2 separate regions of the Homo sapiens genome follow, and region 1 is linked to region 2. The links come from fine-mapping of genetic effects on gene expression. A gene starts in region 2. The other region holds a variant in brackets. All regions are shown on one strand. Distances are between the middles of the regions.

Region 1 (15,673 bases), 97 kb before region 2:
TGATACAATGTCACCTTACCAATCTGTACACTCCACAAGTTTTTAAAAATTAAACAATATATAAAGCACCTAACACAGCCTGGCACATACGGCTACTGAATTACTAATGAATGTTATTATGCTATCATAAGTTATGGTTAAAGTTATGCTCAAATTGTTACCTGAGATGCTTTGCTTCATTGAAACTATATTGATTATTTTTATTTTTGAGGTAGAGTCTTGCTCTGTCACCCAGGCTGGAGTGCAGTGGTGTGATCTTGGCTCACTGCAGTCTCGACCTCCCAGGCTCAAGCAATCCTTCCCCCTCAGCCTACCAAGCAGCTGGGACTACAGGTGCATGCCATCTTGCCCAGCTCATTTATTTTTTTGTATAGACGGCATAACCCTGTGTTACCCCGTTGGTATTACAGGCATGAGCCACTGCACCTAGCCAGGCATATTGGTTTTAAAAGGGTTACAAGAAACAAGATGCACTTTTAGGCCTCCTATAATCCTGCATTTCCAAAGCATCCATTTAGTCATCTCATCAAAATTTTCATTGATTTAAATAAGTTAATATGAACAGACTGACATAATTTTACTTTAATGATGTTGTTTATTGTCCTAAGCCATCCATACACAAAACGTTTAATGTGTTATGGAAGGCTAACAGTTTTTCAGCTTTTCTCAATACTTTCAGCCATCCATACATAAAATGTTTAATGTGTTATGGAAGGCTAACAGTTTTTCAACTTTTCTCAATACTATCAGATGAATGTATTCTTACCAATCATGATTTACGTTTTTCAAATGTGGATTTCTTAGGCCTTTGACTGATAGCTTTAGGCTTTTGCACTACACAAAGAAAAAGACACCTTTCTATTCATTTCTTAATAATTTGTTTCCATAAAGCTAAAATGTCCACTGATGACATAATCTACCTTTGGTTAATCACAGCAAATAGTTCACATTTTAAAGGAATGCAGATATTTGGATAGAAGCCTCTAACAATGTAAATATTGTGCATTTCAAGTTCCATAGTGTGTCTAACCAGGGATAGCAACTGATTATATGTGGATTAACAATAGTGAATAACTGAGCACATATTAACATGAATAACATACACAGCAGTCAAAACTTACTGTTTTTCATATGTGTAAAGTAAAAATTCAATCTATCTTTAACCGGCTCATACTGTTTTCATGTTGTTCAACTATTTGACACAAAAGGAGCTTTTTCCTTTCTTTAAAAGGATTTTGATTCAGTCATAACAGATTTTTGAAAGTGACAGTAAAATTATGCATTTGGTCCAGGATTAAGAGGGAAGTTTTGCTTGCTAGTGTCTATCTGGTTAGACATCAGAATAAAATGAATGGACTGTAAAGGATCTTATAACCAGTCTCTCTCTTTAATATGAAGGCCCAACATTACATAATTCTTTTTAAGAGTTGACCAGGAATGAAATGTAACCTCTTTTAAAGATGAAGAAAAACTGAAAAAATGAGATTAAGAAAATATGTGGGTAGTTTACAGCTGCTGATAGAATTGTGTGCACGCGTGCATGCATGCATAAACACAAAGTGAATCTAGAAGGGAAAAAATTGAGTTTGATGAAGTCTAAGATGAAAGGTTCCATTTCATGTAAGATTATGTGACCTTGGAAAAATTTACTGGCTTGCTAGTGGAATACGTCCTTATATAGGGACTTGAAGAGTTTATCTAAATAGACTGACTTAAGGATGCTTTTCCTCTTGTTAGACTTGTATGACATTACTGAGAAGATTTAGAGTTCTAGAAGTAGAGAAGACTGATTAGCTTGTGCCTGTGTATGAAGAATGACAAATTAAGACAAAAGGTTATGTAAACCATTTACTAAAAAAGTCTAAATTTTTATATTCCTAGGCCCCTACTTATCTTTTACAAACTTTGAAGGACCTGAAATTCTTTGGACACCATCAGATTTAGTTTATAAGAGTTCTGATTTTGAATCAAGAAATTATTCATGTAGTTTTAAAACACAATTAAAATTTTCAGTCAGGCTGAACTTTTGTGCACTTCCTCATTTATTCGAGAAACCCCACCACTAATGTATTTAGACCTTAATATGATGGCTTTGAGTCTTAAATCATTGTCCACCTAAAATAATATACCAAATAAAGATTTTTAAAGTGCTGCATATGGTTTCTGTAAGAGGTACATAATTAGATTACCAGCATTATCCTTTAGCTTCAAAAGTAAAACTCATAGTCAGGATTTTACTGATAGTACAGGAAGAAAAAAAATAACCACTGTTGAAAAATAAATGAAAAAAATTTTATTGAGTATTACTTTATACATGCAAATTGAAAGTGAATCTATATTAAGTTGACTATTCCACAATAAAAACCTATGAAATGGGAATGATCAAAGCTGTCTAACACAATACTAATGTGTTCAATAAATTATCCAGATGTTTTTCCACAAATATTTGGATTACCTGAATTAGCTGATTCTTCAGCAAAAGTTAAATTTTAGCTTTAATATGGTAGCAGCAGGATGCTACTTAAATTTAGAAGAAAAACATAAGAATAAAAACCCTGAATAGCATAGCCAAATCTTCCAAGAAATAAGTTCACCAAAAAAGTAGCATACACCTATTTGGTATCCAGAGGAGGAAACAAAACACAGGCACTTAATCAACATCCACCAAGTGATCATCACTAACATTCTATTATTACCAGAGTAACTGTCGATATGTGAACTGTAGATTAGAACAGACTTACATATCTAAAAACAAACCAGTAATCAATAATATATACAGAAATACTAACTTGAAGTCACATTTAAATACCATCAACAGTTTGGTGTATCTGATATAACTGAATTCATTTCATCACTGCTATAAATTCCTTAAAAGTGTTCTTTTCCTAATTAACATTATCTTTAAAAAATGGTAGATATTTCCCAGTATGCATCAGTTTTTTCACTCCACCATTCAGTAAATGTTGTAGCAAATTAAATAGAACCTATTAACTAGATCTAAAAACAGTGGCTGAATACTTAACACAAAGAAGTACTTTTGAGTAAACTATTCAGATTAGACAGGCTAATGCTAAGACTGCATTTTGTGCTACTGACATGCACTATATAGATCGTACACTACTAGATGGAAAGTTGGTCCATGTCCATTTATTTAAAGATTCTGTAACACCTGTAATAGTATTTAATACAGCTCCCACATACTATATTCCTCTCACATAGACATAGTTATTTTTAGTGGGGATAAGGATATGACTTTAACATGCTATGAGATTCTAGCTAAGTAAAATAAAAACAATATGGACTCAGATTTTCTTAGGAGATATTAGTTCAAGTTTTTAAACTGGGAAACAATCAACTTCCATATATCCAGGAGAAACTTAGCATGGGGGGAGGTGCCTTAGTTGATGTGCCTGATAAGCAAACTGTTAGTTGTCTATTAGTATTATGTTTTCGGCTTAATGTAACAACAAAAGAAAGTTGTCACACTACCTCTCAGATAATATCAATTACAATCTTAGAGACTGTAATTGGGAATACAATCCTATAACAAGTTATTAACAATATCATGAATAGTTATTAAGTAAGTGCCAGCACTACATGCAACTTACTGGTCACCAACTCAGAACCCATAAAACTATACACATATGCACAAAAAAAAAACTCCAAAGAAAGATACCTATCACTGTACATATGAATACTGTCCAGGATATCAGATCAATTATCAAATCCAAGGTCTCTGCTGTTTTGTCTTACAGTGTTGAATATATGAATGCTTCTCTATTACACTGACTTGTACTATTTTCAAGAAATTAAGTGGATTCAAAATCTTACATTTTTATTTCTAATTATAAAATCCAGATTAATCCAAAAAACACAAACCACATGTAACCGAGGTAGGTTTTTCACCTTAAGAATACATTGCTTCTACCACAATTAAAAATTTTTTAAACTGAAGAAAAAAAAAAACTACATTGCTCCACATACCTGATACTTAATTTTCTATGTTTGAAACTACTTGAACAAGTGTGACAGTGCTAATCTACTATATTTAGTAAATCCCTTAGTACCTATAAATACACACCCAAAAGCCCTTCCCTCCTTCTCTAATGGTAACTGTTGTATAATAAAATTGTCAACAACTCTAGAAAGATGAAATAAAGATTACTATAGCAATCTTCAATTAATTCATTTCAGAAATCAAGGAGGCAAGTCATGTTCATTTTAAAGATGACAAACTTACTATTTTGAAAATGAGCTCATAAATACATTAGAACTTTGAATGTGCTTTATTATGCCACAAATTCCCAGGAGATTTAAGAAATAGTATTTCTGAACAGGAATAATAATTTCACAAATACTAACACTTTATTGACAATAGACAAGTCTTTTAGGGTAGTGCACATGTACTTAAAAACTACCTTCTACCAATCTCAACACTTTTTATAAATTTTCAGGTGAAACTGTAGCAGATCCTACTTTATTTTTCAATGGTTAGTGTAAAATTCTGTATGTAAAATAAGTACATATTTTGAGATGGAAGAAGGACTGCATGTGAAATGCTTTGCCTAAGTTGTAAGGCTCCTGTCTTTACGCTATCATTAAAGGCCAAAAAAATCACTGCTAGAAATGTTCCCCAAAAAATTCTTAAACAGCTCAGTCTTTAAAAGTATTAATAATTTTTTTTTTTTTTTTTTTGGAGACAGAGTTTCGCTCTTCTTGCCCAGGCTGGAGTACAATGGCGCAATCTCAGCTCACCGCAACCTCTGTCTCCTGGGTTTTCAAGCGATTCTCCTGCCTCAGCCTCCTGAGTAGCCAGGATTACAGGCATGCGCCACCACACCTGGCTAATTTTGTATTTTTAGTAGAGACGGGGTTTCTCCATGTTGGTCAAGCTGGTCTCAAACTCCCGAACTCTGGTAATCCACCCGCCTTGGCCTCCCAAAGTGCTGGGATTACAGGCATGAGCCACTGCACCCAGCCTAATAACTGATATAATTTTTTTAAGTGAAATGAAATGTTCCTTTATTTACATATGAATTAAATAGAAAATTCAAAGTAATTCTTTTAATAAAAACCCATATACTAATATATTTTAAGGTTGGATACTAACAGCATTTTCACAAGATCCAAAGTGTGGATGACGAACTAGGCAATAAGGACATGTGTGCCACATAACTAAGGGTAACTAAAGGAAGATGAGTACCTCACAACCAAAAGCAGTTAACTATGCCTGGCATACCACCCTGTCATGTGGGCAGATCACTGTTCCCATGCTGGGTAAGAGTCTCCAAGAAGGGAAGCCCTTATGCAGTAATTCTGTAACTATATTAAATTTGGTAATCTAACATTAAACTTTTTCGTGAGCAGTGAATATACACATGGTCATATGAAAACTGCCCTGGAGACCGGGTTAATTATTAAATAAACTAAAAGGGGAGAAATGCTGATAGATAAAATTATGTCAATTCCAGGGTGTTCAATGGAATAAAGAAACAGCAGCAGCTGCTTCAAAAGTAGACTATGATCAGAAACCTCAGATGGTAACCTTTAAAAATTGTGGAATCCAGAGTCTCAACCTAAACCTACATAGGAGCTACAGCCAGGGAGTTCTTTCTAAGTTCCTCAAGTGATTCTGATGATTGGCCAAGCTGGAAACTTCTGAACTGGGGGAGAAAGCCAACCTAGGTAAATGTAGAGACTTTTAGAATTCAACATTTGATTATCATTTACTCCACATTTTCCCCCAGCTGTCTCACCTTCTCTATTTTTCTAACAGTGAACAATAAAAGGGCTTGGCAAGTGAAGGAAAAAGTCAGTAGAGTACCTAAAATGGATTTGACTATATTCAAGCCACTTTCATATATTAACTAGATAAAAGGATACCATACTGCTATTTGAAATTCAATCACAAAGCAAAAATGTCATAATTTTAATGTATTTTAAGGGAAGACGGGGTTCTTAACATGAATATGTAATACAAAAACAATTCTAAATAATAATATTTAATAGAAGAAAAAATCTGTATAATTATTTAGAAGTAACTCTGTTTTTAAAATTTCAATGTTAGGAAGAAAATCCCTTAAATTTGAAATAGCGGAATATTCTCTCATATGAAAAAACTGTGTCCCAGTGTTATTCTTCAACTTAGAAATTAGGCAAAGTATTTTAGTACTATTTCTGCTTACATATTGTTTTGTATGAATGTTTTAAGTATGAATAATATTTTGGTTTTTAGTGTGCATGCTAATATAAAAATATGGATTTTTTTCTCCTACACTGACTTTGTACACTTTCCAGGCCCGAAGAATAAAAAACTTTTAAAATATCCTGTGTTCACTAGCAAACCTTGGAACGATAAAAAAAGGTAGTACCTACATAAGAAATTTTACATTGAAATTACAATTGTATGTTTTTCAGGAGTTAAAGTGATTCAATTTTTCAATATTCAAACACAAAATAGTAAATTTTTATTTACTATAGCACAATTCAAGTATTCTCTTAAATTTATATTTAGTCAACTAAAACATGACAGTGACTTTATAAGAGCTTTCCTTTTAAAAGGTTGCTGTTATAAAAAAGTATGACTCTATTACTCTAAATGCTTAGAATAAGTGGAAAGAACAAATGACAGTAGACAAAAACCTTTATGAGTGAGTCATCAACACATAAAAGGTTGCACACATCAGTAATAGGACATGTGAAGGTAACATCCCAAAAGTATTTGAACTCATGTAAACAAAGACTATGTATATTCCTAAGGGAGAAAATGTACTACCAAGATAAAATATATTCAAACGGCTGTGACTTTAAACCATGTATTAGTTGAATACCACACAAAACCAAAAAGGCATTATCTATCATTTAATAACTGAAAGATATTACTTATTTGTGAGATAAAAGGATAATGCTTTTTTAAAACCAATAATGAAAAAGAAGTATTTTGAAAACAAACATCTGTTTGCTAGAAATAAATATACTTGCTTAGTTATTTTAATGTATTGCAGCATAGGAATATTGTGCTAGCATTGACCATTAACATTCAATCAGTAGTTTAAAATATTTTTTCCACATTGAGTCTTGAATCCTCTACCTGGTCAGCTGACC[C/A]ACAACTTTCAAAAGAGTTTTATTTTCCTGCTTTAGCTGTTCATTTTCATCTTCTATGTCATCTAGGTCCTTAAGAAAAAAAAAAGACACTTTAAAAATACTTAAAAATATTTGAGGAGAGATGAAAACACTTAATACACATTAAAAATAATTCATACAACCAATTAATTTTGAAATGAGGGCAAGCTCTGAAAACAACTTTAGATGTAATATGCCCCACCAAAAAAGAGCATCCATTACTTGACTCTTCGTTCTTACAACAAGTGTATAGGCCAACTCTTACAGATCTTTCAGTTTTTCAAAGGAAGCCGAAAGTCAGAATTTTAAAATTGTGAATCTTCCAATTTTCAATCATCATAAATAAGTTAGTTTTTTAGCTAAACAAACTCCACTTCCCCTCCCTAAAACTGAGGCAAAAAAAAAAACTACCCATGCAAGCCATATATGGTATTGAGCCCTAGGTTGCAACCTTGTGTCAAATTAGTCATCAAAAGGTGCAGGTACAAGTTCTAGATGCACTCCTACCACTGTCTGATCTTTAAAGGTGTACAATGGGGATAACACTCTGGAGAGGTGACAAAACTGAGGCCTACGGAAAAGGGGATCTGGAGTATCTTGATCTGGATCAATTTTGTTTTCAGCTCCAGATCAATTTGTATGTTGGACTTTTCTACGACATTTTGAAGGAAAGGTTTTAGAGCTAAAATTAATTCAAAGCCACTAAATTAAGTATTCGCTCTCCAGCTTTAAAAGCATATGATCCAGCTCTTTTTTCCCTGTATTAATCCTTGTCCCAAACACACAACCATCTGGTTAAAACAAATTCACCATAAGTTTTAGTTACAAGAAACATTATTTCAAGACAGACTCTTTACTGTTAAAAAAGCAGACATTTATAGATTTATTCTTGCAGTTTAAAATAATAAATCTTGATGTAATCAATTTGAATCACTTGAACCCGGGGGGTGGAGGTTGCAGTGAGCTGAGATCGCGCCACTGAACTCCAGCCTGGGCAACAGAGAGAGACTCCTTCTCAAAAAATAATAATAATAATAATAAAGAGTACCAATTTTAGGGTTTTTTTTTTTTTTTTTTGAGACAGAGTCTTACTCTTGCTGCCCAGGCTGGAGTGCAGCAGCGCAATCTTGGCTCACTGCAACCTCCGCCTCCTGGGATCAAGCAATTCTCCTGCCTCAACCTTCTGAGTAGCTGAGATTACAGGTGCCCACCACCATGCCCAGCTAATTTTTCATATTTTTAGTAGAGTCGGGGTTTTACCATGTTGGCCAGGCTGGTCTCGAACTCCTGACTTCACGTGATCCGCCCTCCTCGGCCTCCCAAAGTGCTGAGATTACAGGTGTGAGCCACAGCGCCTGGCCAATTTTAGATATTTCTTGAGGCAACTCTGTGCCAGTGCCCTTACATATGGTAGTGACAAAGCGCCTGTCACCCTCAGATTTTAACAAAACAGAGAACAAATCCATAAATCAGTCTATCTCCAAAAGAATAAAATTAAGTGAGCTAAACTGATAACTGCCCAAAGGAAATCAGTTTTTGGAAGAAAATGATACCTCTTACTAATTATTATTTCACTAACAAAAGAACAAAGTGAATAATGCAATTAATAATTTCTTCATATTTATATATTTTCATCCAATTGCCAAAAAAAACCCCTCCAAACCTGAAATATGGTGAAATACTTACTCTATTTAATAAATCAATTTCTTCTTTGAGTTTTCCAATCATTTCCTCTTTATCTTGCATCAGTCTCACAAGTCTTAGGTTTTCTTGTCTTTCTCTTACTACTTCCTGGTAGATACAATTAAAAACCAGTAATTAGGAAGTAATTGTTTATTTATAATCTTCCTAAGTGGCATATATCTCCCCAATTTGGTAAAATATCTTACATACATGAAGATTTCCAATGAATCCCTTAAGACATTTGGTGAAGGAACAAAGATCCCACCACAAAAGGAATCAGAGAATGCACAGGAGATATTAGGATGCTCCTGAGTAAAGCTATGTTTATACAAGTCTTTAACAAAACTAATGTAATAGACTCAATGATTTAACCTCGTGTGTGTGTGTGTGTGTGTGTGTGTGTATGTATGTATGGCAGTGTTTCACTCTTGTCACCCAGGCTGGAGTGCAATGGCACCTTGGCTCACTGCAACCTCCACCTCCTGGGTTCAAGCGATTCTCCTGCCTCAGCCTCCCAAGTAGCTGGAATTACAGGTGCATGCCACCATGCCTGGGTAATTTTCATATTTTTAGTACAGATGGGGCTTTGCCATGTTGCCCAGGCTGGTCTCGAACTCCTGACCTCAAGTGATCTGCCCGCCTCAGCCTACCAAAGTGCTGGGATTACAAGCGTGAGCCACTGTGCCCGGCCTGTGATTTAACTTATTTAGCTTATCACCACTATAAGTTATGAACTACCTTATTTTTTAATGGGTATCTTGTTTGAAATAATTCAAAATTAATTTTTCTTAAAAATACAAAGTTTAAAGGAGATGGCCCAATAGAAACTCTAAACAGAAAAACAATGGTCCTCAGTTTTACTTCTGGCTCTGCCAGTTAACTGATAATGGATAAAAAGAAGGAACTAAAATAGATTACTGATTTTTAATTTTTTTTTTCTTTAAACAATGCAACATCTTTTTCAAAGACATCTTATTTAGAATCCAGGGCACTGGGCTTGGTCAGCCACCTTGGGGGCAAAAGGGAAGCAGAGCTCAAAAGGCCTTGCCCAGAACTTGGCTTCTTTCTTACTAAACCTCCTACAGAGCAATCAACCATCCATATCCCTTAGCTGCTGCCAACTACTAGCAATTCAATCCAAACTCTTGTGGAACTCACGAAGCCTTTCTGGGCAACTATCTTCAAAACTATTAGATTACATATTGTCTAAACTTTTTAATTTAAAATTATGAAATAATAGGCTGGGCACAGTGGCTCACGCCTGTAATTCCAGCACTTTAGGAAGCCGAGGCGGGTGGATCACCTGAGGTTAGGAATTCAAGACCAGCCTGACCAACATGGTGAAACCCCTTCTCTACTAAAAATACAAAAAAAGAATTAGCCGGGCTTGGTGGTGCATGCCTGTAATCCCAGTTACTTGGAAGGCTGAGGCAGAAGAAACACTTGAACCTGGGAAGTGGAGGTTGCAGTGAGCCGATACTGAGCCATTGTACTCCAGCTTAGGCAACAAGAGCGAAACTCTGTCTCAAAACTAAATAAATAAATAAAAATAAATAAAACTATGAAATAATAATTCCAAGAAGAAACTGTTGTTAAAGCTTAGAAATGTGACCTCAAAAAATCATAAATGTTATAAAATAGAAACAAGTTTTAAAAATGAAATTTCTTTACATAACATATATAAATTAGATCTTTAATAATATAGAGAATAATCTCAAGTAAAACAAAACACATTTTCAACAATTACAAAAGTATTCAACACCATTGCTAATTTTAGGGGTTGAATGTCTATGGCACAAACCTGAGACCCTATGGTTAATAAATTTATGCCAAGAGTCATCTGACTTGCACTGAAAGACACTTTTAAACAGGCATATTCTTAGACAAAATTGTTTCAAACACCAAAGATGGACCTAACTCAGATTTACTCCTGTAATTTGTAAAGTTACAAATGAAAATCTATTCAGACAATATAATAAATACACAGTAGTATATATTTGCCAGCTCAGACTTCTAACCACTTCAAAAACAAGGGCTTTTAATATACTAAAGGTAACAGTTGGCAGAAAAGCGCACATATTAAATATTAAGGAATATTATTTCCTTTCTCACTCAGTTGCTATGAAACAAAAGAATTCTAATGGTATATTAATTTTATCAATCTTAAATAACTTATAATCCATACCTTTTCAAGATCTTCAATTTTCTTTTCCAGTGTGCTACTTGAAACCAGAGTACCTGAAACATTTGCATCCCTGTTATATCTAGGGAACCCACTTCTATCTGTTCGAGAATATCTACTTGAGACATCTTCTTCAGAGACACTGGTTGTGCTGTGGAAATATAAACATTTTATTAAAATCCCTAGTATTCAGCAAGAAAAATGCCAAGAATATTTTCTATTGAGCTTAAAAAAATTAACATTCCCCAAGGACATATGGTTATAGTAGCAACTTATTTGTAACTGTAGAAGTTAATCATTATTCCCACACAATGAAAAAAATGTAAAAGTACCATTAATTCTTTCGACCAATATCTACTGAATAGGTGTTAAGTAACGAACACTGTTCTGGATACTGAAGACGTAACAGCAAACACAAACATGGACTCTGCCCTTCATAGAGCTTTTGGTTAAAAGGGAATATAACTAATAATAAAGCAAGATGATCAGTAAAATAAGGTCAGTGATGGATACTATGAGAACTACGATAGGACAGATCTCCCAGATTATCTTTTTTTTTTTTTTTTTTGAGATGGGGTCTCACTCTTGTCACCCAGACTGGAGTGCAGTGGTGCAATCACAGCTCACTGTGGCTTCGGCTTCCTGGGCTCAAGAGATCCTCCCACCTCAGCTTCCTGAGTAGCTGGGACTACACGTATGTGGCCACCACACCGGGCAAATTATTTTGTATTTCTTTTTTCAGAGACGGGGTTTCACCATGTTGCCCAGGCTGGTCTCAAACTCTTGGGCTCAAGCGATCCACCCACCTCGGCCTCCCAAAGTGCTAGGATTACAGATGTGAGCATTGTGCCTGGCCTAGATCGCCCAGACTATGTGTGGTGAAAAACCACTTTCCTTCTTCAAAATTACAATCTTTCATGGACCAACACTTTTAAAAAGTAAAATTAAAATGAACTGCTGGAAAAATAAAAGTTAAAAAGGTCATACAAAATACAAGTCCAAATGTTTTATTAGATTCAGACCCATAAAATTATAAATAGAAAAAAAGAAAAGAGTTACATCAGTGGCAAATTCTCCACTATAAGTATGCATACAGGCAATCAATACAGAAAATTGCTACCATATTGATAATTTTGTTATGCCATAATTCTAACTTAATCAAAAGTTGTAAGTAAAACAGCAATTCCTTAAACACCAGTTCATACCCTCTGAACAGCACATATGTCAGTATTTAAAGTTTTTAATGTAACAAATGAGTTTGCTTCTTGTTTCCTGTATTATTCTATTAAAAATTACCCCCAAACTTACACACAATTCTTATCTCAAAGTTTCCGTTGGTCAGGAATTTAGAAGCAGCTTAGGTGGGTGATTATGATTCGGGGCTTCTCATGAGTTTTTAATCAAGATGTTGGTTGGGGCTTCAGTCATCTGAAGGCTTAACTGGGCTGGAGAATCTGCTTCTAGGCTCACTCACATGACTGATGACAACAGCCTCAGTTCCTCACTATGTTGGCCTCTCCACTGGCCTGTTCACCACATGGCAGCTGGCTTCCAGAGACAAACTGACAGAGCAACTGAGACAGAAGCTGCAGTGTCGGTCATAACGCAACCTCAAAAGTGACATACTATCACACTGACCTTATTCTATTGTTCACACATATCAACTTGGTATGTTGTGTGAGAGGATTATACACAGTGCAAACATCAGGAGGTAGGGTTCACTGGGGGCTATCTTGAAAGCCAGTTACTACATTTGTTAATCTAGGTTGGACCGAGGACAATGCTACTCAACAAGGGATAATGTATATCTAAACTATTTCTGTGTTTTGTTTTAATAGCAATCAGAGAAAACAGTCTCAAAGGACAGAAATAGCAGTGATTTTAATGCAATTTCAACAAGCTCGGACATTCATTTTTAAAAACTTTTGTCAAAAATGTAGAAAATTTGCTTTTCAAAATTTGTTTTCAATCCTTCACTGACTGGTATCCATTTCCAATAATTTATCCAGCAAATTTACAGTTAAATCGAAAGTGACTTCTCGTTTTAAAAATTGATTCCTCATCTATGAATTTCTTACCTATGAATTTTCTTGTGATAGAAAATAAAAGTGTCCTATCAAATTTGTAAGGTATTTGATTGTAACCTTTTCAAATGTGCAATACCAAGATCACCATCTACTTTACTGATAGTTGTTACTATATCGTAGAACCCTTTATAACCAGCTAAGGTAACTTTCTCCTCAAAAATCCAACTTTCATTTTTGTCACCTGATCTTATCTGCCATTGAAAAGCCTTCTGGCTCACTGCAACCTCCGCCTCCTGGGTTCAAGCGATCCTCCTGCCTCAGCCTCCTGAGTAGCTGGGATTACAGGCGCCTGCCACCATGCCCGGCTAATTTTTGTATTTTTAGTAGAGACAGGGTTTCACCATGTTGGCCAGGCTGGCCTTGAGCTCCTGACCTCGTGATCCACCTGCCCCGGCCTCCCAAAGTGCAGGGATTACAGGCATGAGCCACTGCGCCCGGCCAACTGACATTCCTTCTTTGCATGGAAAGCTAAGATCACTTAAAAAATAAAGAATAAGGCCATCAGACAAAAAGCTAACTCACATATTTGAAAAGCTGGGGACCAAACTGGTTTCTTGTCTTGCAAAAACACCAAGAGTTCATCCCAAAATTCAAATACTCTTGACTGAAAAGGTCAGTTTGAAGACCAATGTACACCCTAGCATCTGATAACAGCTGATCAGCTAACTCCCAAACTACAGTATCTAATTTTTTAGAAACCTCAAATGTAATGAATTAGTGTTTAATAATAAATTCACACTTTTAGTGTACTATACTGTGAATTCAGCTGATATAGCAAGAACACTGTTTAGTTCAGCTGGCAAAGCAAGACTTTCTCAATGAAAGAAGCAGGACACCGATTTACATTCTGGTACAAGCTTCAGTATGTTTTTCTTATTACTGTGCCTGCATAATTAGAATATATTCCTATAAAAGTAAAGCAAAACTCCAAACCACATTTGTTGATACTGTAACCCTTTGCAAGTGTTATATAGTTCAGAGCAAGCTGTATGTCAGCAATGAAGCTGAAAAATAAATTGTTACTTCCTATGTTAGCAAAACCAATGTGTTCATCAAATTGTAACAAAAATTCCTTTGCAGGATCTTATTTGTCTGAGAGTTAGTCTTCGTATCACTGTCCTGTCCCTAAACACATCAAGCTATCATGGTGTTGCTGGAAAGTGGTATGTGAACTATCTTCTTTACTACAGATTCATCCAACATTTCCAAGCAAACATGTTTTGTCTTGTCATTTGTATGCAGTTTTTTTTAATGTTAGCAACCTCAAGTCAGACTATCAGAAACCCCAAAAATACTAGTGATCACATGTGAAATCCTGAACATCTGCTCCGGTCATCTTTGTAATATTCTTTCAAATAATGAATTTGGTTTTGAACATATTTGATGAATTCATTTTGTACATGTCATGCCTGCAACTACCAATTAAATTTTGATCATTTTATATTGTTTAAATAGCCAGTGTATCTCCAAACAACCCACTTTGGTTTTGGTTTTAGCACTTCGCCCATCAATTATGGCTAAAAACTAAACATAGGACACATAATACTTTCCAAGAAAACTAGTACAAATTCTTTTGATCTGTATCTCTTTGAAATTACTTCCATTGTCATCATTTGGTTTACTACTGCTATCGCACTCAAAAAAGTGTATCTTTGCTTGTCAAAAAAGTCCAGTAAAGTTTGTTTTGTCATCAGTAAATCTGACTTATAAATAATACAAATTTTGCTTCCAGGATTTAAATAATACTTGTAAAACATAAAATTCTAAAGAATGAAAAAGATTTTTACATTTTAAAATTACTATATATTTTTAAATTATTTATGGGACGAGAAGAAGTGTGATTAAAATTAACGAGATTTTAAAAATAAATGCTTTGCTTTTTTGGGGGGGCGGGGGGAGATAGGGTCTTGCACTGTCACCCAGGCTGATGTACAGAGGTGCCACCATGGCTCACTGCAGCCTTGAAACCTCAAAACTCCTAGGCTCAAGTGATCCTTCCACCTTAGCCTACCAAGTAGCTGGGACTACAGGCATATGCCACCACCATACCTGGCTTTTTTTTTTTTTTTTTTTTTTGTAGAGACGTGTCTTACTATGTTGACCAGGCTGGTCTCAAACTCCTGGCTTCAAGCTATCCTCCTGCCTTGGTCTTGGGATTACAGGCATAAGCCAGCCACATTTTACTTAATTCTTACACATTTTTGGGTTACAAATGACTAACTTCAAAATATCACACATTGTAACAGCCCTGCTGGGCATGATTAGCATGCAACTTGCCACGGCACTTGAACTACTCTATATCCTGTTCGCAGAGTAATCCACTGATCATGCACTTGGATGTGATGATGACAAGTCAAAATGCAATTCAAGTTTCTAAATGCTTATTCTCAAGTTCTTTTCTTGTCTTGGATTGACAACAAACAGTTCAAGGACTACACTTTGGGTATCACTATGTTAGAGAAGGTTGAAACGTAAAAAGAAGGACAAGAATGTGCAAAAACCTATAAATTGTGGCCCATTTGAGAAACAGAAAACTCCAATATGGCTAAAGCATGGAGTGTAAACATAAGAGTAATAAAATATGAGGCTGAAAAAGCAA
Region 2 (15,673 bases):
TTCATCTGTTTCAGTTCTGTATTTCAAACTGTATATTATTATGTTTATTTATCCTATTCTCTTAGTCCCCCTAGAGTTTTGTTTTGTTTGAGTTTTTCTGAGCCAGGGTCTCACTTTGTCACCCAGGCTGTAGTGCAGTTGAGCAGTCACGGCTCACTGCAGGCTCGACCTCCTGGGCTCAATTGATTCTCCCACCTTAGCTTCTCAAAGTGGTAGCATTAGAGGTGTGAGCTATGGCACCTGGCCCCACAGAATTTATTATGAAGAGCCTGAAAACAAAGTTTCAGCTGCCACAGAATTGTAATCCACAATATAAATTCTCTCCTATCTGTTCACTTCAGCAAAACCTAACAAAATATTAATTTTCAGAATACAACTGCCCTATTTCTTCAACTACTTAAAATAAATGAGACTATCATTGAAAAATACACTGTGACCCACAAAATTTTGCTGGACAAAATCTCCAAAAACTATCACAGAATAAACATTTTACTAGTCAACTGACATGCTAAGATTTGAACTTGCTGGAGCTCTTTTTACCTTTGAAGTGTGTGATTTTGCTGCTTTTAGAATTTAAATATTCCTACAATGTCGTTCAGCCATGGTGCCCTGTGTATTTTTACATAGCCTAAGGAGAATGTAACAGGTGGCTGAGGCTCAATTCTATACATGTAGGTATATGGCTATAACACATTTGCCTAAGATCTAAACAGAAAGTTGACTCAGCAGTTAACCAAATATGTTCAAAATCAATTGCCAGTCAAGGATGCCTATAGGTCTAACATGTAAGATTTGTAATCAATGGGAAAAATGTTTGCACTTGATAGTAGTTTGATAAGATGGCAAACACAATGCTTTAAAAGTTTGAGTTGCTAATTATCAAATACATTTATAAACACAAGTATATGCTTTCACTTAAAGATATGTAAAAATTAAAAATGAGTGAAAGTAAAGTTCTAATTACGCATTAACTATTTGAGGTGTTTCTGTAGTCTAGACTTGTCTAAATTCTGGAAAAGAGGCAAAGCAGACAGAGCATTTTGCACTAAGTATGTGACATTACATAAATGTTTAAAGTACTTTGAATTTCCAAGTAGCTCAACCTGTCTGTTAAAATATGCACAGTTTTAAATTGGAAGAAAAAAATGAAAATGTTTAACAACCTCATAGGAAATTAACCTATACAGTAACTACAATTTCTGATTTGGGCATTTTTATAACATTTTCACAAACATCATTTTATTTAATTCATGTAACAATCCTGTTAGATAACCAGCATTCATTTCATTTGACGGATCAGTAAACTAGTACAGGGTATTTAAGTTAGTTCTTCCCAAACTTTAGTGTGTACCAAAATCACTCAAGTTAAAATGCAGACTCTCAGATAACATCCCTAACCCAGACTGGGGTGGATTCCAGAAATCTGATTTTAAATAAATGGCAAAAGTGATACTGGTAGAGATGGTCCCCCCAGAAACATCTTTTAGGACACTGATTCTAGTACTGTAACTAAAGTGGTAAGCAGTGGAAACTCCTTTTTTTTTTTTTTTTAACTCTGAATCAATGTTCCCAAATGTTTAGATGACAGAGCTTTGCAGATCTCCATGAAAGATATGTAAAAGTTTTATTAAGGTGAAAGTATTACACTCAGTTAAATTGTTAGGTTTTTGCAAAAGTAATCCAACTATTAGGCTGGTGCCATTACTTTCAATGGCAAAAACTGTGATTACTTTTGCACAAACCTAATAAATACCTATTATACTAAACTCCACTGCAAACAAATGGTAGTAGGTGCCCAAGTTTTAAGAAACTTAAAATTGAGGAGATCCTACCATAATTTCATTTTCTCTGTAAAGTGGGAAAGGCTGATATTAAATTATTTTAAGTTAATGGCTTCTCATAATTTGAATACCATATCACTTTACTGAAAGGAAAGCTAAAATTTAGGGACCAGAGGTTCTAAGAACATAATGAAAAATAAAGATGAAAATATAAAAGCACTTAAGAGCACACCGTGTGAATACTAAAAAACCACTGAACTGTACACTTTAAAAGGGTAAATTTTATTGTATGTGAATTATATCTCAATTTTTAAAAAAGGAAAAAAAGCACAGAGAAAATGTCAAACCCTAATATTTGCCAATAATTTTATACTTATAAAACATTATATCAACCTTGCTATTAAATGGCATAATTATTTTCTGGCACACATCATAGGTGCTAAAAAAAAAATGCAGAAATAATAAATAGCATAGATAGGCTTGGTACGGTAGCTCCCACCTGTAATCCAAGCACTTTGGGAGGCTGAGGCGGGTAGATCACTTGAGGCTGGAAGTTTGAGAGCAGCCTGGCCAACATGGCGAAACACCATCTCTACTAAAAATACAAAAATTAGCCAGGCATGGTGGTGCACACCTGCAGTCCCAGCTACTTGGGAGACTGACGCAGGAGAATTGCTTGAACCCGGGAGGTGGAGGCTGCAGTGAGCTGAGATCACACCACATGCCACTGTACTCCAGCCTGGGCAACAGAGCAAGACTCCACCTCAAAAAAAAAAGAAAGAAAGAAAAAAACAAAGAAAATAGTATAAACAGGCCACTAGCTTGATAATGATTTTAAATAAGAATTTTAATGCCAGTGTTTATATATTCATTTGTTCTCAAAATTTTCCATTAAAGTCTCACTTCATCTATGTTCTATAAATAGGGCTATTTTTAAATTCCATAGTCATATACTAACAATTTAACACTAAAATATTCTTTGTATTTCTTAAACTAGGTATACAGTATGTAATACACTGAAGTGTAGTAAGATGGTTTATTACGCACAAGACTGTGAGTGCAAACTATCTCTAATCTACTTCTCACTACATGTATGACCTGAAGCAAGTAACATACCTTCTCTTCCCCATTTTCCCATAGGGCTGTGGTGAGAATTAAATGCACTAATGTATGTCAAGTGCTTAGAACAGTGCCTGGCACTTAATAAGCACACCATAAATGTCATCTACTTTAATTATGTAATTATTATTTTTATGAGAAATGACATCCCAGCTCAGACAACTCAGTACAAATCCTGATAATATTAAAATTTCAATTTACTTTACCAGTGAGCTCAAACATTTAGGAAAGCTGGGCTAATAGCCCAGGTTTTACACTAAACAGTCTCAGTGTTTACACTATATCTACCCCATTCACGAATCAAATTTTCTCCAACTCTGAGTCATTATTAGTTTCTCTCCTGACTCATCACACAGAAAGGTAGACAGTCTGGAGCATAATGGGAATAACAAAAGGCATTTCTTAATCCACCTGGATTTATAAAGTTTACTAAGTGGAACTTGTCCTATATATAATGTTCAATAAACATACTAAATAATTATGACCTAACCTGTGTTCACTTAAAAGTGCTTTCTATATGTTAAATGCTCCTTTATCTTCCCTTTCACCAACACGAGTTCAAACTATGGAGTAGGTGTCATGACCCCATCTTGATAGAAAAACAATATATCACTTAGGTAAAATCAAAGATTCACATTTTCTGACCACTAGCCAAAAATAAATTTACGTTTTGCCGAGAGCCTGGTGTTCAAAATTTTGCCACTCTATAGGTTAGAGGGTCAGAGGCAATCTCTGAGTCCACAAATTTGACCTGAAATTCTATTCAATTCCATACCTTTACTGTTTTCCTCATTCAGATGTTTAAATTACTTAAGATAATCTTTAATAAAAAGTTATGTAAAAATCTAGGGAAATATGCTGAATAATGAAAAGTAGGTTAATTTTTAAAAACTCCCCTTTCCCTAGATATATACATACACACAAAATACACAAAAATGTTTAAAATATTGCTCTATCAGTTACTTTCTATGTGATCTTGAATCATTTAAGCTCTAAGTCTTCATTTTCTCCTCTGGAAATAGTGATAAACAGTGTAACTACCACATGAGATTGCTGTGAACTTCAGTACATAAAGCACTTTAGCCAACCACTAAAGCTAAACCACTTTAGCCAACCACTATTTTAAAACAGAAGTTTTAAATACTGTATATGTTAACTTTTATACTTAAACCAAAACTTCAGTGCCACCTCTACCTATTCAAAGATTACATTTTCTATGGCACCCATCTCCATTAACCCATTCACACAACCCTACTCAATGGCAGTAACTTCACAAACCCCCTGGAAACAAGTATGTAACTGTCTAGGAAGCTTTCTTCAACTATCACTCCTCCTCCCTGGGTTAGGTACCCTGCTCAGGCACTAAGCTATACTTACTACTCTACTTTTCACATTTCCTTATATTACCTGAGAGCACCTCGTGGGCAAGGCTTATGTCCTATTCATTTCTATACCCAGACTGCAGTCCAACAGTTGTTATCACTGACTCACATTTGAATCAAATGGGGAACTTATAAAAATATTAATGCCTGGGATCCATCCCAGACCCATTCAATATTACAGGGTGGGGTGAAGGGACAAAGAGGGCACGGAATTGAATTAGCATGAGCAAACATTTTTTTAAAGATCCTAACATGCTATCAATGTGCTGCTCAAGTTAAGAACCACTGCATGTCGGTACTTAATATACTATACAAACAATTATGTATACATGTACATATGTGAGAACATATGTAAAAATATACAAGTACTGAAAAGTTTAAGACTCAGGTCAAGATTCTCATCCTCAATAGCTTCTCCCAGCCCAATCATCTCCCCCTTTTAAACACACACTATTTCCAATAAATAGTTACATGCTTCATTAAGATGGCTTTTAAACTGTTAACTCAGTACTTAAATTTTTTCATGTAATTATGCCTTATCCTTCTTCCTAGATTATAGCCTTGCTCCTTGAGAATATACACTGCCGTGTTCTTATTTTCTCCACTGCTTAAGGATAGTGTCTTTAACAGGTATGTAATACACATTTGACTGATCTGATAAACACACACAAAAATTACTGGCAAGAAGTATGCCACGTCCAAATTACCCAGTTCAGGTGAATTACTACCAAAAAATAGAAAATGTAAAAATTTAGAAAAAAGGATATTTTTCTTAAAACTCTTAGTAAATTTTATCTCATTAAAGAAGCTCTGGATAGATCGACTTCAGCCATCACATGCAGTAACCACCCAGTTTCCTACCTCCCAAATAGCTAGTTTCGGTTTTTGACCTGGTTCCTTGCCTATAACTATCTTCTAGTCAATTCTGGTATCTTTAGCTGCTGTCAGATACCTTTATAACAGTATTATATATACACTCTATAACTAGTAAAGTGAGGTAATGAAAGTCACAATAAATGTATCACACAGATGTTTCATAAGTACTTCCTTGAAGGAACTTAATGTTTATCCACCATTAAAACCAGATCTCTACATATGAACTACATGTTAATCTACTAATACAGACTTGGTTGGGAATCATGTCTGAAAATAAGAGTCTTACTCGACATTAGATAAAATAAAGTCTACTTTTGAATATAAAGAGATTGGTCATTTTCATCTTTTTACTTATTTTCATACCCGAAAAATTTGCAAAATATGTATGACTTTTTAAAACAGGGGTGCTAAATTAAATATTACACAAGAAACTCCACAGCAACTGGTATTCTCAATGTTGAAACTACCAGGAGAAATGGCACAATTCTAAAAAAGCAACAATATAAACACATGAAAATGGCTCAGCTTTAAAGTTTTGCATCATATATTTTACCACTATTAAAATAATCTGAAATACATAAGTTGTTTTGAAAAATAAGAAAATATGAGGAGGAGGCGCTCAAGAAGTATGTCTGTTAATTAGATACTGTAGTGAAGCATTACTGTTTTGTTGGGTCCTGCAGCTTGAAACGGACAGAGACATAGTTACCACTAAAAGAAAGCAGTCCTCAATTCCCTATTCAATAAAAAGGTTCAAACTCTACAGACAAAAAAAAAGGTACCCTTGGTTTGTTTGTTTTCAGGGAAGATTAAATTTAGGAGTTGCCAACACCCAAACGAAAAACATTCCAGAGTATTAGACTCCATTGTAGTGGGAAGTCATCTACATTCTCAGCACTATGTTCTCTTACTCAAAGCAGGGGTATTAACAAAAGATGTTTCTTAGGATCTCACAAGATACACTCTACTTACTTCCCCCAGTAAACATTACCCTTGTTTAAAAAAAAAAAAAGTACTTGAAAAATAATTTTAGCACATGCAGCCAGAAAAAAAGTGAAGTTTAACATCTGCCAAGATATTTCCCAAAATAAGACCGCTGTCAGATGAACAATGAGGAAAAGATTGAAAATGACAAATTCTTTTATTTGGATCATCAGCTACTTTTAAAAATCAAGTTGAGGAATGTAGCTTTTCCAAAGCCTTGTCTTCAATTTCCCCTTAATCTTCATATTTTTAACTAAAAAAAAAAAAAAAAAAAACACCTAGAAATTTGATTACCACTCTTACGAATTCCTTCTAAAGCAATTTAATGAATAACAGATCTTTTGTGCAAGTAGCAAACCGCAGAGGACAGTTTTGCTGGCTGATAAAAATCTCTGAAACGCTCATATAAATACGTCCTACAAAGACACACTATGATTTAACAGGTATGGAAATCATAATACTAAAAATTTAGGTATATTTAATATACACCCTAACTTATTGCAAATGCTTCTACTTAAACCACAATTAAAGTTGAGTAAAATTAGAAAGCCAGGAGAAGAAAAAGTGAAAGCTAAACAGTCAATGAGAAAAAGATGCAACTATTTTAGGTGAAACAAGGTAGTTGAACCACTTCCTCAAATCCATGAGCTACTATCAAAGTAATCAAAACTTGTTTGAGATTGTTTTGTCTTGTTTCTGGTAGAGGGAGGTGTGATTATACACTTAGTAAAAATGTTTTACCAGTCACTCTAATGGAAGATGCTGCTACCTGTAACGTTTCGAAAATGCTCCAAACTGCAAACAACCCAAAACAAACAAAAACCCTACCACATGTTTTTCAGACACAGTACTCAAAAAGAGATCGTCTTAGCGAACAGAATTGTGGGTTACTAAATCATCCCTATTGTCCTAAGTATCACTCAGAAAAACACTGTGTGTTTAGGAGCACAACTTATAAACAGCTGATTTATATATAAAATAGTGCACGTATTCATTTGGATATACTCATCTTGAGCTCACTGTAAGATAAAGCTGTCTTGGATATTGCTAAGGCAACATTTTCTTTACAGATGTTATTAAACATTGGTAAGAAAGGAGAAATAAACTGGTAACTTCACATGGGCACGTGAGACCCTAGAGAATGTCGTCACCATTAATCAATTTTTCTAACTGATCAAGCATAAACAGCCAAGTCCAGGTGGCCAAGTCAGCCAAGTCCAGGTGGGCAAGTCCTGGAGCCATAAGTTGTCTTTCTACCACGGTAAAAAAGGATCCTGGATCTGAGACCTGGCCAGGAAGCCTGAAAAGCACGTGTCCTACTCTGAGTTTGGGGAACTTCCCAGGAAGCATTTGTTCAGAGTAAAACTCCATCACCCCCTGCCTGCCTAACTCGGTGAAGGGACAAGTACGAGCCAGGGGAGGTAAACTCTGCGCCCCGGGTAGCTCCCAGGAGGAAGACACCGGGAGGCAGCTGCCCGCCCCGGCCCGGTCCGGCTGCGGCCCCCGCCCGGCTCACCTCTGCGGCAGGGATGTTGACCACGCCGGTGGAGCGCCGCTTCTCCCGCAGCTTCCTCTTCTCGATCTGCCCCTTGCCTTTCCTGGCACTGGGGCCCGAGCTCTTGCCCTTCTCTGGGACGCCGTCCGGCTCCTCCTCGTCACGCTGGGGCGGCGGTGCAGCCGAGGCAGAGGCGGCTGGGGGCTCGTCCTCCGACCGCCGCGGGCCGGGGGCCGCCCGCGTCAGCATGGCGGAGCCGACCGCGCAGTTCACGCCCCCGGGACCGGGGACGGCAGGTGCGGCCGGCGCGCCGCCCGGGAGGTTGTTGTTGAGCTCGTTGGCAGCGGCGGCCGCCGGGGTGCCCAGAGCCCCCGCGGGGGGCTTCCCAGCGGCGTCGCTGCTGCCCCCTCCCGGGGGGGCCGGGCCCGGGGGGTTCTGCTTGGCGCGCATCTTCTCGCGTTTCGCCTTCCACTCCTCCAGGAAGTCTGTGGTGCTGCCGCCGAGGCCGCTGCTGGTCCGGTAGCCACCGGTCGCCATATTCCCAAAGGGGCCGGTCGGGCTCTCACCTCAGGCCGCCCACCAGGGCTCCGGCCGCTGCCTCCTCTTCCTTCCTGCGGCCCCGAGGATGCCAGGAGACGACCTCCAGGAGAGGGACGGCCGCCGCTCCCACAGCAGCCGGCGGGGCTGAGGTGAAAGACAAAAGGGGGCGGGTAAGGGAAGCGTAAGATCCCCGCCCGACCCAAGGGTCTGCCCCCGGGCTGCGCCCCTTGGAGTCCTCGAGCGCGCCCACCAGTCACTACCGGCCAGCAGCCGCCGGGTCCCCACCCTGCAAAGTTTCTCCCACGCACCTACAGTACGGACCCCGACGATCGCCGCCCCTAGAAGGGAGGAGAGAGGACTGACCCCACCCCCAAGTCGGCCCGCCCGCCCCATCCCCACCAAGGTCCGCGCCGGCGGCGGTCGAGATACTAGGGCTAGACCCGCCACCTGTCGGCTCGTCGTATCGCCTGCTCCGCGCTCTAGCCACCGCCGGTCCGAGGTCCCCGTCAGCTACAACCCCACTCCCAAGGCGAGGCGCGGAGCTCCTAGCCGGTTCGCAGAGGAGGCGGGGACCCAGCTGTCCCGCCGAGCGTGGAAAGGACCGGGTGTGAGCGAGCGCCTTACCTTGGAGGAGCTTGTAGGGGACGAGGCGTAGGGCTGGGATCCGGCTCCCAGGTGTGCCGAAGCTGGCGCGCGCTCTTCCGCCGCGCGGAAAGTGCCGCGGCAAACTCGCGGTGCGGAGCTCCAGGCAATCCCAGGACAGGAGGGAGGGAGAAGAAGGAGGGAGGGAGGGAGGGAGGGAGCCAGGGGCGGGAAGGGAGCCGAGCGGCGCCGAAGCACGAGCGGAAAAGGCCGAGGCGGCGCGCGAGGGGCGCGGCGCGCGGTGGGAAGGGTCGTGGCCGCTGACGCCCCGCCCCCGGCGCTCAGGTGCGCGGCGTCGCGTCCGGCCCGCCGCTGCAGCCTGCCCTGCGCCAGCCGTCCTCTGCCCCGCTCCCGCCGCAGACCACAGCGCGCCCGCCGCGCTCCGCCCGCGGCCTGCGAGTTAGACGGCACATTCCTGGGCTAGCAGCTTCGCGGCGTCCGGCCTCCCGGCGCCTCCGACTCCGGGGCGGGAACGGCACTCCACGCCCTTCTTGCTTGTCTTCTCCGCCTCTCTCTTCTCCCACCACTCTTCCTTTTAAGTACAAGACCGTATTATTTGAGAGAAAGTCTCGAACGCTGCTGGCTAAGGGGAAAAGTGCGATAACTTGTGATGATTCAGGGAATGACTAGACAGGATGGGAAAATACCCACGTGTCTCTTTTCCTAGTCGCTGCTCCCTTTTCAGATGTACTAGGGCAGCGGGCAGGAGAATAGAAAGACCTGAGACAAACCCAGCACCCTCCTTCTAAGAAAACTGCGGTGCCCTGGTGAAAAGGGTTGGCTAAGAGGAAGGACTTACTAGTATCTTAGGGTTGCGGGAGAAAAAACTCAGTTCGACAGTTTATTGTATTGGCGATTCCAGTCTTGGAGTTTTCCCCTTAACCCTGTCTCTGCCTCTCCTCTTTACAGAGAATGAATTTAGCAGCAAAGCTCCCTACCAAAGTACTAACGCTGCACTGATGCTAATTTGAGATGAGCTGGGGCAGTGATTGTCTCTATTTTTTCATTATTAACATGCCAGAGGCTTATCCTCTGATGCAAGTCATCTGAAATTTCTGGATCAGAGCGGGGTGGGCTGTCACTGACGCACCTAAGACTGACCTTTCTATATCCAAGTAATGTCAGGGCACATCATTGTGGGAGGCTACAAATGCCAGGTCTCCATTTTGTAAAAAAGTAGGAGAGCCCTAAGTCACGCTCTTACCTAACATAAACCTTTCTTCCTACTTAATATTCCTGTTTTGCCCAGGTAGCACATGATGAGTGAGCAATCAGTGTTTGCCTGCCACAGAACTGGGAACAGAAGAAAGTGATTCACATGCTCTATATTTCTCAGGGAAAGACAGTTTTGGTCTTTGGTCTGGCTGTTGTGGGAAACGTATGGCGAGAGCTCTGGAAAAATCCTTAGAAAATTAAAAGCTTTTGTTGGGAATAGGTCTAAAAGGCTGAGCGGCTGTTTACCTAAGCTAGTACCAACCCCAGTGTGCCACCTGAAGTTTCTCAATTACATATTCATTAGTTTGTTTTCTGAGTTTTAAGGAGAGTAAGGGAGGCTGGGACATTAAACGTATTCACATTCATATGCTTTGTAACTTATCAGAGGACTTTTCTCCTGGAAGGGCTGCAGGATATAGTGGAAAGAGGGTATAGTCAGCTAGCTGAGAGATCTTGGGCATGTTTACATTATCTGGTACTCAGCTTTCTGTACTATAAAATCAGCAAAAATTACATTTTTTTTTTTTTTGAGGCGGAGTCTCGCTCTGTCGCCAGGCTGGAGTGCAGTGGCGGGATCTCAGCTCACTGCAACCTCCGCCTCCTGAGTTCAAGCAATTCTCCTGCTCTCAGCCTCCCAATTACATTATATTTAAGCTGTCTTAAGAACTGACACTGCACATAAAATGTGCTTGATTCGAGGAAGGCACTCAGTAAACATAGTCCCTTCTAGGGGCTTAAAGTCCTTGGTCTCTAAGAAGTGTATGGGAGAAGAGGAAATTATAACAGATGGGGTATTGAATATACAATATCAGCCTAAAAACGATAGACTTTGAATGAACTAGGATAACACCCCACATAAATTTATCACTGCATGGCTTAGACCAGTTCTCTTAGTGTTAATAGGTTCTGAGTCAGGAATTTTGGCTGCTACTGACTTGTGTGGCTTTGGGCAAGTTGCTTAACTTTTGTGCCTCTGTTTACTTACATATAAAATGGGGATAATAATACTTCCTGCATCGTGAGAGTGTTGTGAAAGTGCCTGCAGTCCTTAGATAAAAGGTGGTATGTGAGTACCAGAGTAGGTATTATTAGTCTATAAAGTGCCCTAGGAACCATGGATGAAAGAGATTATTGAGGTACAAAGCTCTGTGTTTTGTTATTATTATCATTTATTATACCTTTTGTCTTTACCATTCTCAATATTCCCGAAGATATATTTCACAGCCAGACTGCTTCCAACATTGCACCGAGGTATTTAGCTGAGTCAGTCCTAAATTGCAAGATGTTTGCATATCATCAATCTTTATGTATAGCGTTCTGATGAAATAATCCTCAAAGACTTGGAGCTTGGTTTCTCAACCTCAGCACTGTTACATTTGGGGCTGGATAATTCTTTGCTGTCCTGCCCATTGTAGGTTGTTTAGCAGCATCGTTGGCTTCTACCTATTAGATACCAATAAGAAACCCCCACCTGTATTGTGACATTGCCACATGGTCCCTGGGATAAAATTCTTCCCCGGTTGAGCACCTCTGAGTTAGCCTAAAATAACCAATTTTTAGCGACTCACTTGCCCTTAATAATAAAATGAAATATGATGATAATGCTGACAAAAACAGATTCATTTAAATATGTCAGAGTGAAACCTAGATGTTAGTCTTAATGATTTTGAGGAAGTGTATTATTATATGTATGGATAGCTAGTGTATTGGGAAGTAGCCATTTTGCCTTCAATGCAGGTATTTCTGGAACATATGCAATTCATCCTCTAACATCAAAATATTATATGTGCATAGGATAAAAAAATTACATACTTTAGTTCTACAAGGATTATAACAAAAAACAGCAATCCCCTCTCTACCTTATCCATTCTGAAAACCCTACCCAAAACTTTGAACTTTTTAACTGTTTCCATTAATAGAGATCTTCATATTTATTTTTTATGTGCATATCTGCTATTGTACATCTTGATTTTTCCATTTTTAGATATAGAAGAGGATTTAGCTCTAATACACTAATAACACATATACTTTTCTTTTCTTTTTCTTTTTTTTTTCTTTTTTTTTGAGATGGAGTCTCGCTCTGTCTCCCAGGCTGGAGTGCAGTGGCGCGATCTCGGCTCACTGCAAGCTCCGCCTCCCGGGTTCACGCCATTCTCCTGCCTCAGCCTCCTGAGTAGCTGGGACTACAGGTGGCTGCCACCACGCCCGGCTAATTTTTTTTTTTTTTTTTTTTTTTTTTTGCATTTTTAGTAGAGACGGGGTTTCACTGTGTTAGCCAGGATGATCTCGATCTCCTGACCTCGTGATCCACCCGCCTCGGCCTCCCAAAGTTCTGGGATTACAGGCATGAGCCACCATGCCCGGCCACACATATACTTTTCATACTCCTACACGCCCGTAGTATTATGACTATACAAATACTGTTCATAGCTGAGTCATGTGGTGTATATGATTGCATTTCTTTTTTTTTACAACTGTTTTTCCTTGTTGCACAACTATACCTTTTGTCTTTACCATTTTTCTGCAGTTAAAACTTGCCTCTTTTTTTTTCTTTAATCATCGGCTTATTTTTTTATATACCAGTCACAAGTATATACTCAAATTTTCCTCCTCTCAATGACGTTAATCACATTGGGTAAGCTATCAGTTCTATTCTCTTTTTGGAAACATCTGTTCTGGAGCCCTCCATCCCCTGCTTTAATATGGATTGATTTTGTTTGTTTGTTTGGAGACGGAGTCTCGCTCTGTTGGTGAGGCTGTAGTGCAGTGGCGCAGTCTTGGCTCACTGCAACCTCCGCCTCCTGGGTTCAAGCAATTCTCCTGCATCAGCCTCCAGAGTAGCTGGGAATACAGGCACATGCCACCACGCCCAGCTAATTTTTTGTATTTTAGTAGAGACGGGGGTTTCACCATGTTGCCCAGACTGGTCTCGAACTTCTGAGCTCAGGCAACCAGCCTGCTTTGGCCTCCCAAAGTGCTGGGATTACAGGTGTGAGCCACCGCACCTGGCCTAATCTGGACTGATTTTAAGGCTCGTTGCTTGTGGTCATCCTGGGATTATGCTCCTCTAACACCTTGAGAATCATTTTCTCTGTAGACTTCTTGTTTCCTGAATTGCATACTTTTCTCTTTTTGTTTCTCCCCTTCATTTTAGCAGAGTATATCCTCAGTATATTCTGAAGATAGTATAACTCATTCTTAGAGACCTTGCATATTGGAAAATGTTTTAAATTTATCTTCATACTTGATTAATAGTTTGGTGGAGCATAGAACTCTAGGTTAGAAAGCATTTTCCTTCATAATTTTGAAGGCATTGCTTTATTATCATCTAGTTTCCAGAGTTGCTGTTTAGAAGACCAGTGGCATTCTGATTGCATTGTATTTTCTGTCTCAAAATTTTTGGATCTTCTTACTTAGATCCTCTGAAATATCTTGAAGATATGCTCTGATTTGGTCTTTTATCATTATTATGTTATGCAGTCAGTGGACCCTTTTAATCAGCTATCTGCCTTCCAGTTAGGAAATTTTCTTATCCTCTTTCTTTTTCTTTGACATGGAGTCTCGCTCTGTCGCCCAGGTCAGAGTGCAGTGGCCTGATCTAGGCTCACAGCAACCTTCACCTTTCGGGTTCAAGCGATTCTCCTGCCTCAGCCTCCTGAGTAGCTGGGATTACAGGCACACACGCCTGGTTAATTTTTGTATTTTTAGTAGAGACGGGGCTTCACCATGTTGGTCAGGTTGGTCTTGAACTCCTGACCTCATGATCCACCTGCCTCAGCCTCCCAAAATGCTGGGATTAGAGGCGTGAGCCACCGTGCCTGGCCTATTCTCTTTCTTTTATAAGACTTTCCTTCTACTTTCTCTGTTCCTGCCTTCTGGAATTCCTGTTAAGTAGGTGTTGGAATGCTAGAAGTTCTCTAACAAATTTTTTCTCTTTTCTCTTTTATTTTTCATTTCCTTGGCATGTTATTCTACTTTTAGTGAAATTTCCTTCACTTTGTATGCCAGTTCTTCTATAGAATTTTCTGTTTCGGACACTATTTCTAATATCTCTTTCTTGTTCTCTAAATATTTTTTTCTGTAGCATCTTGGTCTTATGATACATATTGAGCATTTTGTCCTCTAAGCAAATTGCCTACATTTTTTGTTTGTTTTAATCTTCATCTTTCATGTTAGAGCACTTCCTCATCAGTTTATTCATATTTAAGACTGAAGCACTGCAAAGCTGATTGAAAGCTCTTATGTGAAAAGGAAGACCTTGTTGGACTGATGGGCCTCATTTAGGGAGCCGGTGTTTGGCCGCAGACATTTTCTGGAGGCATGTGTCAAATTCAGCATCTATGGAGCTTCTCTTTTGGCCCAATAATTTTCCTTGAGTAAAACTATTTCTGCTTGTGTTGTCAGTTGCCAATTTTTTCAGGTGCCAAGTAGGGAAAGAAGACTGGAGGAGTCTCATTACTCAATACGCAGGTTTTCACTTAATCCCTATACTTAGTATATCTGACGTACCCAATTTCAGTGCGTTTGTAATTCAACATCTGTACAATGTGAAAACTTCCAGTCCTCTGCCAGGATCAGGAGAGATAGTCTCCTTGCTACTGAGCCCTGCAGAAGGGATTTGAGAATCTAACTGTTCCTTGTGTAGATTTTCAACTAATCCTTCTGTTTTCATCCCCATCCTTCACTCTGTTTCAGAGGTATATGCTGCTGCCTCCAATTCTGAACCTTTCTTCAGGGATCTGCAGGACAAAAAAAGATTACTTCTTATTGGCTTTGTCTCTTGCAGGTTGTTAGAATTTACCTTACTCTGCTCTGCTAAAGCCTGTCTGCTTTCTATCTTTCATCTTCCAAAATTTTGTTCTTACTGTTCATCCTCTTTGTTGTTACTGGTTTATCATTTTACTTTGGTTTTAGTGAAGTTACTTGAGGAAGTAAAGATAAACACGTGTGTTCAGCCTGTTATATTTAATAGGAAGTCCAATTCATCTGTTTTGCAGATTTCTAGATACTTTGCAATCTACTCCATAAGTCCAGATCAGCAGAGACGTCTACATCTTATTTCTGTCCTCAGTGATTTACATCATAAGCCCATATTGATTGACACTATAAGAAAGAGCTCTAAAAATTTGTTTTATTTTCTGTAGGCTTTTTTTGAAGGTGTGGCCCATTATATTACATATATTCCTATTATCAAAAACCTAGAAAACATTTCTGACATCCATATTAAGAATAGATGTGGTTCTCTTTTGGAACTTTTTTTAACCATATAGTAAAACTATTTTTCATATAGCTAGTGAATATTCTGTTTTCAATTGCCTGTAGGTAATCTTAGACCAGATTTTTGGCCTATCCAGGGAAGACCTAGATTTTATGGTGCCTGAAGCTTACATAATTTGGTGGACTTTCTATAAGAAAAATAATCCGTAAGAAAATAAATATTTAGAATAAGTGAGAAATTTTTTTAAATTACAAATTTTAACAAATTGAAAAATGCCATAAATATCACAAAAATCCAGGAAAAAACCCTATTCATTTACTCTCTGACATATTTCTATGCCATTTTGTATGCATTTTATTATTGATTTTATTACTTATTGATGCATAAAGTACATGTCTTTACATGCAGATATATCCACTAT

Evidence for each region.
Region 1: its variant is fine-mapped to the expression of PAWR in whole blood (TOPMed, PIP above 0.99).

The regions. Positions count from the first base shown.
Region 1 is chr12:79,585,521-79,601,193 of GRCh38, forward strand. PAWR (pro-apoptotic WT1 regulator) reads right to left here. Exons shown (of 7, transcript NM_002583.4): 5 at 10,991-11,138; 6 at 8,809-8,913; 7 at 1-7,173. The coding sequence ends at 7,087. Among named protein-coding and RNA genes, the nearest start is that of PPP1R12A-AS2, 97 kb to the right of the region's middle. The variant C/A (reference allele first, on the strand shown) is at 7,105.
Region 2 is chr12:79,682,071-79,697,743 of GRCh38, forward strand. PAWR (pro-apoptotic WT1 regulator) reads right to left here and starts at 8,894. Exons shown (of 7, transcript NM_002583.4): 1 at 8,802-8,894; 2 at 7,659-8,321. The coding sequence starts at 8,174. PPP1R12A-AS2 (PPP1R12A antisense RNA 2) reads left to right here and starts at 7,962. Exons shown (of 7, transcript NR_187531.1): 1 at 7,962-8,326. RefSeq lists silencers at 7,602-8,121, 8,892-9,191.